2 separate regions of the Homo sapiens genome follow, and region 1 is linked to region 2. A link means that fine-mapping ties the variant in region 2 to the expression of a gene that starts in the linked region. Tissue or cell type: whole blood. Region 2 holds a variant in brackets; the other region holds the start of a gene. All regions are shown on one strand. Distances are from middle to middle. Region 1 holds the start of GCLM (glutamate-cysteine ligase modifier subunit). Region 2 overlaps GCLM (glutamate-cysteine ligase modifier subunit).

Region 1 (8,327 bases), 23 kb before region 2:
ACACAAAAAACTCTTCAAAAAGTCAATGAATCCAGGAGCCGGTTTTCTGAAAAGATCAACAAAATAGACTACTAGCAAGACTAATAAAGAAGAAAAGAGAGAAGAATAAAATAGATGCAATAAAAAATGATAAAGGGGATATCACCACTGATCCCACAGAAAATACAAACTACCATCAGAGAATACTATAAACACCTGAATAGACCAATAACAGGTTCTGAAATTGAGGCAATAATTAATAGCCTACCAACCAAAAAAAGTCCAGGACCAGACAGATTCACAGCCAAATTCTACCAGAGGTACAAAGAGGAGCTGGTACCATTCCTTCTGAAACTATTCCAATCAATAGAAAAAGAGGGAATCCTTCCTAACTCATTTTATGAAGCCAGCATCATCCTAATACCAAAGCCTGGCAAAGACACACACAAAAAAGAGAATTTTATACCAATATCCCTGATGAACATCAATGTGAAAATCCTCAATAAAATACTGGCAAACTGAATCCAGTAGCACATCAAAAAGCTTATCCACCACGATCAAGTTGGCTTCATCCCTGGGATGCAAGGCTGGTTCAACATACGCAAATCAATAAAAGTAATCCATCACATAAACAGAACGAAAGACAAAAACCACATGATTATCTCAATAGATGCAGAAAAGGCCTTTGACAAAATTCAACAGCCCTTCATGCTAAAAACTCTCAATAAACTCGGTATTCGTGGAATGTATCTCAAAATAATAAGAGCTATTTATGACAAACCCACAGCCAATATCATACTGAATGGGCAAAAACTGGAAGCATTCCCTTTGAAAACTGGCACAAGACAGGGATGCCCTCTCTCAACACTCCTATTCCACATAGTGTTGGAAGTTCTGGCCAGGGCAATCAGGCAAGAGAAAGAAATAAAGGGTATTCAGATAGGAAAAGAGGAAGTCAAATTGTCCCTGTTTGCAGATGACATGATTGTATATTTAGAAAACCCCATCATCTCAGCCCAAAATCTCCTTAAGCTGATAAGCAACTTCAGCAAAGTCTCAGGATACAAATTCAATGTGCAAAAATCACAAGCATTCCTCTACACCAATAACAGACAAACAGAGAGCCAAATCATGAGAGAACTGCCATTCACAATTGCTTTGAAAAGAATAAAATACCTAGGAATCCATCTTACAAGGGATGAGACGGACCTCTTCAAGGAGAACTACAAACCACTGCTCAACAAAATAAAAGAGGACACAAACAAACGGAAGAACATTCCATGCTCATGGATAGGAAGAAACAATAGTGTGAAAATGGCCATACTGCCCAAGGTAATTTATAGATTCAATGCCATCCCCATCAAGCTACCAATGACTTTCTTCACAGAATGGGAAAAAACTACTTTAAAGTTCATATGGAACCAAAAAAGAGCCTGCATTGCCAAGACAATCCTAAGCAAAAAGAACAAAGCTGGAGGCATCATGCTACCTGACTTCAAACCATACTACAAGGCTACAGTAACCAAAACAGCATGGTACAAAAGAGAGATACAGACCAATGGAACAGAATAGAGGCCTCAGAAATAACACCACACATCTACAACCATCTGATCTTTGACAAACCTGACAAAAACAAGAAATGGGGAAAGGATTCCCTATTTAATAAATGGTGCTGGGGAAATTGGCTAGCCATATGTAGAAAGCTGAAACTGGATCCCTTCCTTACACCTTATACAAAAATTAATTCAAGATGGATTAAAGACTTAAATGTTATACCTAAAACCATAAAAACCCTAGAAGAAAACCTAGGAAATACCACTCAGGACATAGGCATGGGCAAGGACTTCATGACTAAAACACCAAAAGCAATGGCAACAAAAGCCAAAATAGACAAATGGGATCTAATTAAACTAAAGAGCTTCTGCACAGCAAAAGAAACTACCATCAGAGTGAACAGGCAACCTACAGAATGGGAGAAAATTTTTGCAATCTACCCATCTGACAAAGGGCTAATATCCAGAATCTACAAAGAACTTAAATTTACAAGAAAAAATCAAACAACCCCATCAAAAAGTGGGCAAAGTATATGAACAGACACTTTTCAAAAGAAGACATTTATGCAGCCAACAGACACATGAAAAAATGCTTATCATCACTGGTCATCAGAGAAATGCAAATCAAAACCATAATGAGATACCATCTCACACCAGTTAGAATGGCAATCATTAAAAAGTCAGGAAACAACAGGTGCTGGAGAGGATGTGGAGAACTAGGAACACTTTTACACTGTCAGTGGTAGTGTAAACTAGTTCAACATTGTGGAAGACAGTGTGGTGACTCCTCAAGGGCCTAGAACTAGAAATACCATTTGACCTAGCGATCTCATTACTGGGTATATACCCAAAGGATTATAAATCATGCTACTATAAAGACACATGCACAGGTATGTTTATTTTGGCACTATTCACAATAGCAAAGACTTGGAACCAACCCAAATGTCCATCAATGATAGACTGGATTAAGAAAATGTGGCACATACACACCATGGAATACTATGCAGCCATCAAAAAGGATGAGTTCATGTCCTTTGTAGGGAATGGATGAAGCTGGAAACCATCATTCTGAGCAAATTGTCGCAAGGACAGAAAACCAAACGCTGCATGTTCTCACTCATAGGTGGGAATTGAACCATGAGAACACTTGGACACAGGGTGGGAAACATCACACACTGGGGCCTGTCATGGGGTGGGGGGTTGGCGGAGGGATAGCATTAGGAGAAATACCTAATGTAAATAACGAATTAATGGGTGCAGCAAACCAACATGGCACTTGTATACATATGTAACAAACCTGCACATTGTGCACATGTACCCTAGAACTTAAAGTATTATAAAACAAAAAGTATAGACAAATCTTATTCAATCTTGAGTTCAGAAGATAGTTATATCGGGTTTCATTATAGTATTCTTGCTATTTTTGTATATGTTGGAATTATTTACAACAAATGTTAATTGTATGTTACAGTGCATCAAAATGTGTTTAAGTAGTGGTGGTGCTTGTGGGTAGCTCTTTCACTATAATAAAAAATCAATATCCAAAAAAAAAAAAAAAAAGCAGCGCAAGCTCGTTCAATGAACTCTTACCATCATTCATTCAGCCAACAAATATTTACTCAACATCAGGCTCAATTTCTAACTTCCTAGAAAGATCTTTTTTCCCATCCCTCCCCTAATTCTTACCATTTTACCAACTGGTTCATCTCTCTTTTCAATAGCTATATTGTCCCCGCTTATAATGAGAATCTCATTTTGCCTTTAATAATCTGATTCACCTCAACGAATGTGAAAGATTGTTGAGGAAAGCTCAATACATGTTCAATTTGATGTTTATACCGAGTCCACCACCACACGTGAAATTTAATAGGGGTAAATAATCTCGACCACCTCTAAAGGGGTGGGTGATAAAAGCTTTCTGTGATCTCACCGGCTCAAGTGTCCTCTTTAATCTGAATTCATCTGGAGAATAACTGCCCTATGATGTTCTTATAAAATTACTTGTTTCCTGTGCTTAGAACTTGTCTCTGGGTAGAGTGTACGCGTCTCAAGGGCAAAGACTCAGTCTTGTTCGTTGACTTCACACACTGCCAGCAAATAATGTGAATCAATAGACCTTTAACGGATGAAGAAAAATTAGCAGTTTGGGAGAAGGTCCTTGAAGGTAGCAAAGCGAAAAGAAGAAGGGGGCGCTTGCGCATAAACAGCTGCTTCTGAGAACGAAAACTACGTAGCATTTCCGAGTCCCGGTGGCCGCTCAGGCTGCCCTTTAAAGAGACGTGTAGGAAGCCCACCCTGGGGCGGCCGTGGGCGGAGCCGCGACCTGAACGCCGGGAGACCTCACCAGGCGGAGGCGGTGTCTACCTCACCAGGCGGAGGCGGTGTCTGCCTCGCGCTGTCCTCTGACCGCCAGGGGGAGCCCTGCCGCGCGCTGCGCTCCGGGCCGCGCCGCCACGCTCTCTCGACCCGCGCGCCCGCCGCGCACCACCCGTCGCCACGCCCGCCGCAGGCCAAGGGCCAGTCACTTGCGGGCCGGCGTCCCGCAGCCCATTCGCGCCCCGCCCCTGCCCCGCCGCGGGATGAGTAACGGTTACGAAGCACTTTCTCGGCTACGATTTCTGCTTAGTCATTGTCTTCCAGGAAACAGCTCCCTCAGTTTGGAATCAGCTCTCCCGCTGCGGCCGCAGTAGCCGGAGCCGGAGCCGCAGCCACCGGTGCCTTCCTTTCCCGCCGCCGCCCAGCCGCCGTCCGGCCTCCCTCGGGCCCGAGCGCAGACCAGGCTCCAGCCGCGCGGCGCCGGCAGCCTCGCGCTCCCTCTCGGGTCTCTCTCGGGCCTCGGGCACCGCGTCCTGTGGGGCGGCCGCCTGCCTGCCCGCCCGCCCGCAGCCCCTTCGCTGCGCGGCCCCTGGGCGGCCGCTGCCATGGGCACCGACAGCCGCGCGGCCAAGGCGCTCCTGGCGCGGGCCCGCACCCTGCACCTGCAGACGGGGAACCTGCTGAACTGGGGCCGCCTGCGGAAGAAGTGCCCGTCCACGCACAGCGAGGAGGTGAGCGTGGCGACACTCGCCGCGGGGCTCCCGGGGCAGGCCTCGGGCGGGGCCGGGCGGTTCCGGCAAGGGAGAAGCGCCCGCGGGCGAGGGAGGGTGGCAGGGCCTCGCGCGCACCTGGGCTCCGCCCGCGGTCAGATGCTGAGGCCAGTGTCGACGCGACCTTGGGTCCAAACCCGCTGCCGAGGGCAACGCGTCTAAAAAACTTAGCCGGTGCAGCTGCGCACTGAGTGACACCTCTCTCGGTGCTTAAGGCTGGTAGCAAAACTCTCAAACATCCTGGGTCCCTCTTCCTGGCACGGAGGTCACAGAGGGCCAGGACGTCGCTCCGTCTCTCTCCACATCTCTCGCTTCCTTCCCCCACCCTGTCCAGGTAAAGGAATATTTTCGGAGATTATCCTTTGGTGCATTCAGATGAAGTAGTATTCATAGTACACCTAACTTTTAGAATGTTGACATTAGACTCTCTATTGCAGTGAGGCAAATGAGTAAGCACTCAATTTTGGCTTTGGAATACCCTAAATACCCTGACTTTAGTCATTACACATTTTATGCACTTATCTGTGCGTCTATGTATGCTTTATCAGTACACATTCTATGCATGTAACAATATCATTGTACATTCTATGCATGTAACAGAATATCACATGTGCCCCATAAATATGTACAAATATAATCTATCAATTCAAAAATTAAAGTTTTGTAAAAACTGGAAAATAAAAAGACTAGTCACTAGTTGGAGGTGACAGAGATTAATCTGGAATTACAAACTTGTTACCTATTTGTTGGCCATTTCTGAGCGGATAGTCATCCACTGCACATTGTGCATATTGGTGGTATGGGACAATTTTAGTATTTAAAAAATAACAAAATCTTTAGATTTAGGAGCTATATGACTTTGGAAAATTACTTTAAAGTTGGATAATAACACCTTCCTCATCAGGTTGTTGTGAGAATTAAGAGGTAATATATGAAAACGCTCACCATGCAGGCATCTATCTCCCTGTCATCTGGTTCCATCAGAAAGATAAATCTTAATTAAGAGAAAAACCTTCCTAAACTATGTGTGTTTAGAAAAACCTTCCTAAATCAGCTGTGTTCCTAAGTGGTTTCTGCTCTCTTCTATGAGATGTTGGTAACAGACCATGCAGCAGCACACGGCATCCCTCTGAGTTAAGTGCTGGACCTGTGCCCAGGCCTGTTGTTGGGGTCAGTGCCCATCAAGAGATGAGAACTCTTGCTTGTAACTTTAGTAGGAATCTGAGTCTGTACCATATTCTGTGTTCACGTTCCAGCTCAGTGTGTATGTTTTGTTTTATTTAAACCACCTACTTTGGCTGTTTCTCCCACAGATAAATATTTCTGTATTCGGTACATAGACTCTTAATTTCTTCCAGTACTGTTGGTGGTAGTTCAATACAGAATTTTGCACGTATATTGATATTATTGGGTGAAATTTTACCTATCTCACAATAGCATACTCTAAAGTAGTGACTCAAAAGAGTTTCTGACTGCAAACACAGTAAGAAGTACATTTTACTTTGCAATCCAGTTAATAGTTGTATAATCAGTATATCTGAAACAGGTTTCACAAAAAGATATTAGCCCTTATACCGTATATTCTGATTTTTTCTTTTATTTTAATTTTTAAAATGTTGATTTCTTGATGCTCAGAGTCACACACCACAGTTTGTAAAACATTGTTCAAAGGACTAATTCTGGTTTCTAGTGTTTTATTTAGGGTGCTTCATAACAGTAGGATAAAACTAAAGAAACTAGAAAACATTTCAGGAAAACTTGAAGGAATGGCATCATACTGTAGGGAAACTATGACTGCTTGGTAAGAGCAAAAGGGGAGGCACATTTTGTTTCTATGTAAAAGAACTTTGTAACACCCAGAGCTCCAAATTGGGATGTACTACTTGGAACAGTTCCGCTTCACTGAAGAAATTAAGTAAACTGAACAAATCACTTATTTTTGAGAAAATGTACGTGTTGGGTCAAGAGTTCAGTTAAATTTCTTACAAGGTCTCTTCTAGTTCTAATTTTTTAAAAAATGTTATGACCTCTGCCCAGATTTTTTGTCTCACTGGAATTTTATGAAATCAAATAGTTTGTAAGTGGACCATTATAGGACTGTTTTGCCCAGTTCTTTGTTGTAAGGGTGTTTGACCGGTTGAATCATGGTATTTAAAAAATTCTTATACAACTCCAGATCTAATGGTAGGCTAAGTTGTGGTGATGCTTATACTCAGTGATATTGGGTGTGTATTATAAGAATGAAGAGAGCGGAGAACAAACATAAACATTAATGTTAATGACAAACATTAACCCAAGTACAAGGTTAATGTTTAGTCAATATAGCAAACATGTAATTTACAAGATTAAAAATAATTAGGCTTGTGATAAAGTCAATGAATTTCCTACGTAATTGTAACATTAGACTGTTTTATTATTTGTCCTGACATTTTGCAGAATCCAAGATTAATTAAAGAAATGGTTTCAAGAAGAGGGTGAATACTATAAAAATAGACTTACCTTCCTGAATTGAGGAATTCATCAGGAAAGCCTCAAGTGTGCAAATGAGCCATCCTTCCAGAGGGAAATTTCTTAGAATTATCCCACGATTTGAGCCAAAGCACTTCCGATAGAATTTTTAACCTCTAGTTGGTTCTGCTCCTTCCATTTTTACTAATTTTTAAGAAAATACTATGACTTATAATTGTATCTGGAATGATTATCAACTCCTTTTCATCCACTGACTTAAATTTGATTATAAATATGCTTTACATAAAGATCTAGACCTTATAATTTGAATTCAAGTGAATTGTTGTGACTAGCATGTAAATTATTATTATGGATTGTAAATCTTAACATAGGTAGTTCTGTGCCCTTAAATTGATAAACCAGTTATCTCTTGTAATCATGTGTACTAAGATATACGTAGTAAAGTGATTGTATCAGTTTTTATCATAAGCAGTCATAGTTCAGATAGTTCAGAAGTTTAGTGTCTGCTGTTTCTATTAGGAAAGTGCTTTTGCAATTCAGGGGCTTGCCTCTAGTTACTCATTTGTGTTTTCATTGATTGCCCACAGAAGAATGCAAAACACTGTGTCCTTGGTTATCTAATAAGGCAGTGATTTCAGATTGCCAGGTTTGGCCCATTAGTGGTCATAAATCAGTTCAGTGAGTCATGGACCAGTATATTTTTTCTAATTAATATATTGGAAGCCATTAGAGTGCCTGGCATGTTGTGAGCATAAATACCGCTTTATGACTGTTTTGTTCCATTATATGTATATAGGTCTTTGCTCACTATGTGAATGTATGTCTTACTTTGGACTACTATCAAATAAGTCTGAAATACACTTTAATAAAGTATGTTTGAATTAATTTACAACATACTATAATATTTGTATAAATTTTTTTTTGTTTATCTAAGAAAACATGGAAGATAGGTTAGAGGTGCACCTAAATGTTACGAAATGACTTCTGGAGTGTCATACAAGTTGAGTTCTGCAAGATATGTCTATCCTGGTGGTTCTCAGACTTTAGAGTACGTAGATAAAGTACTCTCCTTAGGATGCTTGTTAAAATGAAAGTCCAAACTGCTCTTGGAGAATGATTCAGTGGGTCTAGGATTAGGCTCAGGAGTCTGAAATTTTAATAAACAGCACAGGTGAATCTGAGGTAGGATTTACCAGCCACACTTATTCTCTAATAATTTAATTTGTTTGTCTTTGAGAAA
Region 2 (8,294 bases):
AGCGTGTATCTAGCTTTAAGAATGTACTTGTACTTTGGCCCTTCATTCCACAGCCAGGCATGCATTTTAAAATGTTCATCATCTGCATCATTGTGACGGTTTGTTTCTTCCATATTTGGAGATAAATTTATGTGTAGACTTTTTTTTTGTAAGACATAGTTGATAATGAAAATTTATTTAAATGGTCTTGCAATGATTTAAGTATTCAAATGCTTAAAGAAAGCATTGCTGGTACAAATATTTCTATTTTTAGAAAGGGTTTTTATGGATCAATGCCCCAAGTGTCATCAGAGCCATTGGTGTTTTCATTTTTAAAATGTCACCTGTAAAATGGGCATTATTTATGTGTATATGGCTTTTTTTGGCATTCCTGATAAATGTATTATATAAAGTCTATACATTGGATAATAACACTAGTATATTTAAACTTACAGACTTATTTGTAATGCAAACCACCATTTTAATGTACTGTAATTAATATGGTTATAATATATATATAGTCCTTCTGTCCTACCATCACACAACTTTTTGTGTGTGTAATAAACCGCTTTTGGTTTGAAAATATTTTTCGAGGCCGGGCACGGTGGCTCACACCTGTAATCCTAGCACTTTAGGAGGCCAAGGTGGGTGGATCACCTGAGGTCAGGAGTTCGAGACCAGCCTGACCAACATGGTGAAACCCCATCTCTACTAAAATATAAAATTAGCCAGGCATGGTGGTGCATGCCTGTAATCCCAGTTACTTGGGAGGCTGAGGCAGAAGAATTGCTTGAACCCGGGAGGTGGAGGTTGCAGTGGGCCAAGATCACACCATTGCACTCCAGCCTGGGCAACAGAGTGAGATGCCATCTCAAAAAAAAATATATATATATATATTTTTTAAAAAAAGAATGTTTATCCTGGCATTATTCTTATTAGCAAAATATTAGGAAAAACATAAATGTTTTGACCAATAATAAGGAAATATATGAATTATGATATCTATGTAATATAGTAATGGGGAAATTATTAAAAATGATCTTTTCACAGACTATTACATGGGAAAATATTCACAATATAAGTGGAAAAAGATAAGCAAATAAGGCTTTAACTACAGTGTGATTTCTAATTTTGTAAGATATGGATATACACACACACATACAGATATAAGATCTAGAGATATATAGAGATTCAAGATATGGATGAAGATATATATATATATATGAAGATATATACTCATATACACCAAAAAAGTTGTAAGGAAATGCATGACAATGTTATATCATCTCCAATTGATAGGATTATCAGTTACTTTTTTTTTCTTTAGACTTTCCTGTATTTTCCCTGACTATACATTAGAATCACCTGGAGATCTTTAAAAAACTGCAGATGTCTAGGCTCCACTCACCAAAAGTTAAGAATTAAATAGGCTGGGGTACAGGTGTAGATACTTTTTAAATAACTGCCTGGGAATTTCTAATATTCTGGTTCAGATTCATAGCACACACATGAAGAATAAGCATATTATATATTAAATGTTGAGGTGTTTCTTTTGTTATGTTAAATGCTTACCTACATACTAAAGTGCTTTTTTGTTTTCCAATTTAACACGCTGGAGTTTTGTTTGTTGTTGTTTCTTTTAGAACTGCTTTCTGAAGCAAGTTTCCAAGAAGCTCTTCAGGAAAGCATTCCTGACATTCAAGCGCACGAGTGGGTGCCGCTGTGGCTACTGCGGTATTCGGTCATTGTGAAAAGTAGAGGAATTATCAAATCAAAAGGCTACATTTTACAAGCTAAAAGAAGGGGTTCTTAACTGACTTAGGAGCATAACTTACCTGTAATTTCCTTCAATATGAGAGAAAATTGAGATGTGTAAAAATCTAGTTACTGCCTGTAAATGGTGTCATTGAGGCAGATATTCTTTCGTCATATTTGACAGTATGTTGTCTGTCAAGTTTTAAATACTTATCTTGCCTCCATATCAATCCATTCTCATGAACCTCTGTATTGCTTTCCTTAAACTATTGTTTTCTAATTGAAATTGTCTATAAAGAAAATACTTGCAATATATTTTTCCTTTATTTTTATGACTAATATAAATCAAGAAAATTTGTTGTTAGATATATTTTGGCCTAGGTATCAGGGTAATGTATATACATATTTTTTATTTCCAAAAAAAATTCATTAATTGCTTCTTAACTCTTATTATAACCAAGCAATTTAATTACAATTGTTAAAACTGAAATACTGGAAGAAGATATTTTTCCTGTCATTGATGAGATATATCAGAGTAACTGGAGTAGCTGGGATTTACTAGTAGTGTAAATAAAATTCACTCTTCAATACATGAATGGAAACTTAAATTTTTTTTTATGTGTCCTTGCTTATAGTTTAGCTGTAATAATTTAACCTTGTATTCTTGTGCCATATTCTGTCTTTTTATTACTTATAAAGACAAACCAAAGTAAATCTGAAAGGAGACTAGAAGCTTTGAAATTATTGTTTGGGGGTTTTATAAAAGCAACTACTGTCACCTCCATCCAGATTCTTTTAAATTATTGATCCATCCATAGTATATATTGCTACTCATTCAAGAATCCTCAATAAGTATTGAGTATTTACCATATGTTGGGATACTGTGGGCTCTGGAGAGAGGAGGGGGCAATAGAGCTAGGAATTAAGAATCAGTTGAGTAAAATGTGTAATATTTATTCCCCATTAATAACTGACTAGGAAGGACTAAAAGCCAGAAAGGGGATGAAAAAAAAATCCTTAATTCAGGGCCGACATTATCTACTTAAACAACTTTGAGATATGGTCTTAATTATTTTAAAGCAGAATAATATAATTGAAAGTTTATAGCTAAAAGAGACTATATAGGTCATTTAGTATAATTCTTCATTAGTTTACGAACCACAAAATTGCAAATAAATAAGCTATGAACTTTGATGTACACTATAAATCTCCTTAATTCTATAAATTTGTGTCTGTAACCTGAATAGTTTGAAAACTTCTTTAAAAATCTCTTGTATTTCATCCGGGCGCAGTGGCTCACACCTGTAATCCCAGCACTTTGGGAGGCCGAGGTGGGCAGATCACGAGGTCAGGAGTTTGAGACCAGCCTGACCAACATGGTAAAACCCCATCTCTACTAAAATACAAAAATTGGCTGGGCGTGGTGGCACTCGCCTGTAATCTCAGCTACTTGGGAGGCTGAGGCAGGAGAATCGCTTGAACCCGGGAGGCGGAGGTTACAGTGAGCCGAGATCACATCACTGCACTCCAGCCTGGGCGACAGAGCGAGACTCCATCTCAAAAAAAAAAAAAAACTCTTGTATCTCAATATTTTTAAACCACAGGCCTAAATAAAACTAATTTTGCTCAAGTTTTCTCAACCTAGGGAAAAAGAACTATGGTTCCATATTCAAAATAAATATTATAGACCCTTTTCCTAAGTAGGATTTTGTGGTTTACTGATTGGGTAATTTGATCATTAAAATTATGTGAAATCTGCCCGGGCACACCTCATGCCTGTAATCCCAGCACTCTGGGAGGCCAAGGCAGATGATCACCTGAGGTCAGGAGTTCTAGACCAGCCTGGCTAACATGGTGAAACCCTGTATCTGCTAAAAATACAAAAATTAGCCAGGCGTGGTGGCGGGCTCCTGTAATCCCAGCTACTTTGGAGGCGAGGCACGAGAATCGCTTGAACCTGGGAGGCGGAGTTTGCAGTGAGCCGAGATCACGCCATTGCACTCCAGCCTGGGCGACAGAGCGAGACTGCGTCTCAAAAAAAAAAAAAAAAGAAAAATTATGTGAAATCATGTGATTTGCCTGGGAAAACTTGTTTAGATATTGAGCTACTTATGCCTTCTAGCCTTTATATTAATTGTATGTAATGTTATTAAATATATATATAGTTCATCTTTACATTTGGAAATGCCCAACATTTTTTTCATATAAGTCCTTAAACAAGCGTTCATTTTATTTTAAATCTATACAGTGAACTGGCCAAGATATTTTAAGAGGGAACTTTAATATCCCATTTATTGTTTTTATAACCCTGGACTTATAAAAATGGGTTGTTTGAAGGGTTATTTTGAAAGTGGGGGAAAAAAAAACTTAGTTGCTAATGTATCTAAACTTCAGCAGAGCTTTTTGGTGATCTCCTACCTGCACCCTCAACTCTTGACAAAGAAGCAAGACTATAGATTCATTTTCTGAAGGGGATCATGTATGGAATTTTTTGATGAGTTTTTACTTTTACCTCTCTACTCTTGATTTTCTATTATTGAATACTCTTTTAAAACACTGATTTTTAAGGCTTTATATATGTTTTCCAGGCTGATGTTCACATCTTTTTTTCATGAACTATCAGAATATAGTGAACACTTTTCAAATATTTAAGGACTTAATGTTTAAAAAGCCATAAAATAGAGAGTGGTAATACTACCAAATAATTACTTAAAACTGAAAGCTAAGTTATCAATAGTTTATATAAGAGATGTTTTCTGAGGAGATGTGCATCCAGTGAGACCAAGGTAGAAAGTTTATATAATTGTTTTTTTTCCAGTAAATATGAAAAAAAAA[G/AG]CTGTAGCTTGTTTATTACATGTCCAAAATACAGTGGAGCCTTACTTTAACACAATGTACTGTAACTTGGAATTTGTTCTGTTATGAGTCTATCTTGAATTCCCATCCATGAAACTGTAGTCACCAAAAGCAACAAGTATTTTCACATGATGTAAAAGACCATACTATGATGGCCATTGCTAGAAATTGAATCACAAATAATAGCTAATAATTTTTCATTTTTCAAAAAAGATCATTTGGATAGCAGCTATGTATAAAATGGAAAATAAAAAATTATTCTATTTTGCATGAATAGTTCAGACTTTCCCATACCACAGCCAAGCAGTAACTAAAATTAGGATCTTAATTTTCAATGATAAAAGGTCTAAGGTTCATTTAATTATGCTCCTTTAACACTGTCTTTCTAGATTTTTCACCCAGTATTTTCAAAATTTGGGAATGTAAACAATTGATATATTTATTGTATGTTGGCTAGCAGTTCATCCTTCTGCAAAATATGCATTCAGAGAAATGTGAAGCTTGTTTTAATGAAGACTTAAACCATTTGTGTCATTTGTGTTTTCATATTCAAATACACCAAATTAAAATTCTGAACCTATATTTTTCATCATTAACTTCCTAATATACCAGAACATATACCTTTTTCATGTAAAGTTGGCAATGGGATATGGCAGTTTTATTTTTGAAAAATATGTAACATGACTTTAATATTTTTATAGTTTTCAGAATTAGAAACATAGGAAGGGAAAATGTTTTAATTAGATAAGTCAACTTTTTATGTGTCTGTAGTGGTGTACTATAATAGCAAATTATAAAGCATTATTAAATGTTTATAATAATTTTTAATATTACCTACATTATGAATTTAACTAAAATAAAGTGTGAGTTGTATATTTTTTAATTGGGTTGTTTCAATAGCTGGAAGCATCCTGAAGCATTATATTGATTTTTGAACTATTTGAACTCAAACTGAGTATGATTTGAAAATAAATTAATAATTTAAAAACATCCAAATCATAAAGCTATTTATGCATTCATTCATTCCACAAAGATTTATTGAATGCCTGCTATGTGTTAGGCACTGTGCTACAGATGGACACAGATGAAAAATAACTCCTATACCCAAGGAATATACGATATATTTGGGGGGAAAGGGAGGAATCTGTATGTGAATAAGAGCAATAAAAGGCTGCATCTGTTGGCTGGGCGCAGTGGCTCACACCTGTAATTCCAGCACTTTAGGAGGCCGAGGCGGGCAGATCACTTGAGGCCAGAAGTTCGAGACCAGCCTGGCCAACATGGTGAAACCCAGTCTCTACTAAAAATACAAAAATTATTCGGGCATGGTGGTACATGCCTGTAATCCCAGCTACTTGGGAGGCTGAGGGATAAGAATCACTTGAACCTGGGAGGTGGAGGTTGCAGTGAGCCGAGATCACACCACTGCACTCCAGCATGGGTGACAGAGCCAGACTCTGTCCCCCAAAAAAAGAAAAAAGGCCGGGCACAGTGGCTCATGCCTGTAATCCCAGCACTTTGGGAGGCCGAGGTGGGCAGACCACGAGGTCGGGAGATTGAGACCATCCTGGCCAACATGGTGAAACCCTGTCTCTACTAAAAATACAAAAATTAGCTGGGCGTGGTGGCATGTGCCTGTAGTCCCAGCTACTCAGGAGGCTGAGGCAGGAGAATCGCTTGAACCAGGGAGTTGGAGGTTGCAGTGAGCCAAGATCATGCCACTGCACTCCAGCCTGGTGACAGAGCAAGACTCCGTTTCAAAAAAAAAAAAAAAGCTGTATCTGTTGATAGAAGTAATGAAAAGGACTGGGGCATGTGGAAGGAAGTGGGACTGAGTAGCAGGTTAAGGATAAGAAAAACTTCCCTGAAGAAATTAGCTTTAGACTAGGGTCAGATGACAAGGTGTGGTAGGCATTCTGGGCAGAAACCCTTGTTTGCCTGGTTTGTAAATATGCCCCTATTGAATGATGGAGTAGTTAATATGTAAACTTTAGAAGTTCAAGGAAAACATCTTCAAAAGCTTATTCTTATAGAAAGGAATGGCTTCTGTTGAGATAAGCGTAGGTTAAGTTTGGAAAAGTCATAAAAAGATGAAAGCTTGCTAATTTCCTCTAAATATATCAGGATATGGTCATATGTAGTTCCGCTACCAGAGAAGTCAACAAAAGCTTTAACATGTTTCCTCAGCAATGACTAAATGTGTAAAATGTCATGCAAGATTTTGATGTGTCTGCTGGTCCATTATTTTAAGGTTCATGTTTTACAATGAACATTACTTATTTTGATTATTTTCCCTCTTTCTTTGCTCACTGTTGATTCTTGCATTCTATTCAAGTTTTTTTTTTTTGTTTTTTTTTTTTTTGAGACAGGGATCTCACTCTGTTTCTTAGGCTGGTGTACTGTGGCATGATCATGGCTCACTGCAGCCTCAACCTCCCAGGCTTAAGCCATCCTCCCACCTCAGCCTCTCAAGTAGCTGGGACTACAGACATGCACCACCACACCTGGCTAACTTTTATTTTTGTAGAGACAGGATCTCGCTATGTTGCCCAGGCTGGTCTTGAACTCTTGGACTCAAGTGATCCTCTCACCACAGCCTCCCAAAGTGCTGGGATTACAGGCATGAGACACAGTACCTAGCCTCCTTAGTAATTCTTTACCAAAGGTCTTTAGTGACAGTAAATTTTCTAGATCCCATTTGTCTGAAATGTCTTTATTTTGCACTCAACCTTTGTTTTTTGTTTTTGTTTTTGTTTTTTATAGAGATCAGTTTTCATTATGTTGCCCAGATTGGAGTGCAGTGGTTATTCACAGGTGTGATCATCGCATACTACTGCCTAGAACTCCTGAACTAAACAATCCTCCTGCTCCAGCCTCCCAAGTTGCTGAGACTACAGGCACATGCCACCACACCCAGCTTAGTTTGCACTCAATCTTAAATGATCATTTGACATTACAGAATTCTAAAAGCCCCCAAATACAATATTGAAAACCAGATACAACCCAAATGTCTATCAACAGCTGAATGGATAAATCCATTGTTATATAGTCATACAATGAAATACTCAGCAATAAAAAAGAATCAACTACTGGTATACACAATAACATGGATGAATTACAGAAACACTATGCTGAGTGAAAGAAGCTAGACATGAGTACATACTGTATTATTTCTTTTTTCTTTTTTTTTTTTTTAAGACGTGGTCTCGCTCTGTCACCCAGGCTGGAGTGCAGTGGCATGATCATGGCTCACTGCAGCCTCAACCTCCCAGGCTCAAGTGATCCTCCCACCTCAGCCTCCCAAGTAGCTGGGACTACTGGCGCATGCCACCATGCCTGGCTAATTTTTATATATTTTGTAGAGATGGGGTTTTGTTATGTTGCCCAGGCTGGTCTCAAACTCCTGGGCTCAAGTGATCCTGCCTCCTCAACCTCCCAAAGTGCTGGGATTACAGGTATGAGCCTCTGTACCTGGCCTGTATTATTTATTTTACTTGAAATTTTAGGAGAGATGAAGTTAATCTATAACTACTGGTTATCTATTGTTGTATCTGGATGACTTTGAGGCATCCAGATGCAGCAATGGATAAGTCAAGACTGCAGTCTCACCTGAAGGCTGGACTGAGGGTCTGTTTCCAAGCTCACTCGTGTAGTTGTTGGCAGGACTCAGTGCCTCACACGTTGTCAGACTGAGTTCCTTAATTCTT

What was found.
Region 1: GCLM starts here. The variant in region 2 is fine-mapped to the expression of GCLM in whole blood (INTERVAL, PIP above 0.99).

Annotation. Positions count from the first base shown.
Region 1 is chr1:93,905,290-93,913,616 of GRCh38, reverse strand. GCLM (glutamate-cysteine ligase modifier subunit) reads left to right here and starts at 4,187. Exons shown (of 7, transcript NM_002061.4): 1 at 4,187-4,579. The coding sequence starts at 4,454. It overlaps LOC124904221 (a long non-coding RNA gene), which reads right to left and starts at 4,025. Exons shown (of 2, transcript XR_007066230.1): 1 at 3,463-4,025. RefSeq lists an enhancer at 3,664-3,823 and silencers at 3,864-4,103, 4,314-4,673, 4,724-4,773.
Region 2 is chr1:93,882,488-93,890,781 of GRCh38, reverse strand. It overlaps GCLM (glutamate-cysteine ligase modifier subunit), which reads left to right. Exons shown (of 7, transcript NM_002061.4): 7 at 1,623-5,583. The coding sequence ends at 1,792. Among named protein-coding and RNA genes, the nearest start is that of DNTTIP2, 7.4 kb to the right of the region's middle. The variant G/AG (reference allele first, on the strand shown) is at 4,570.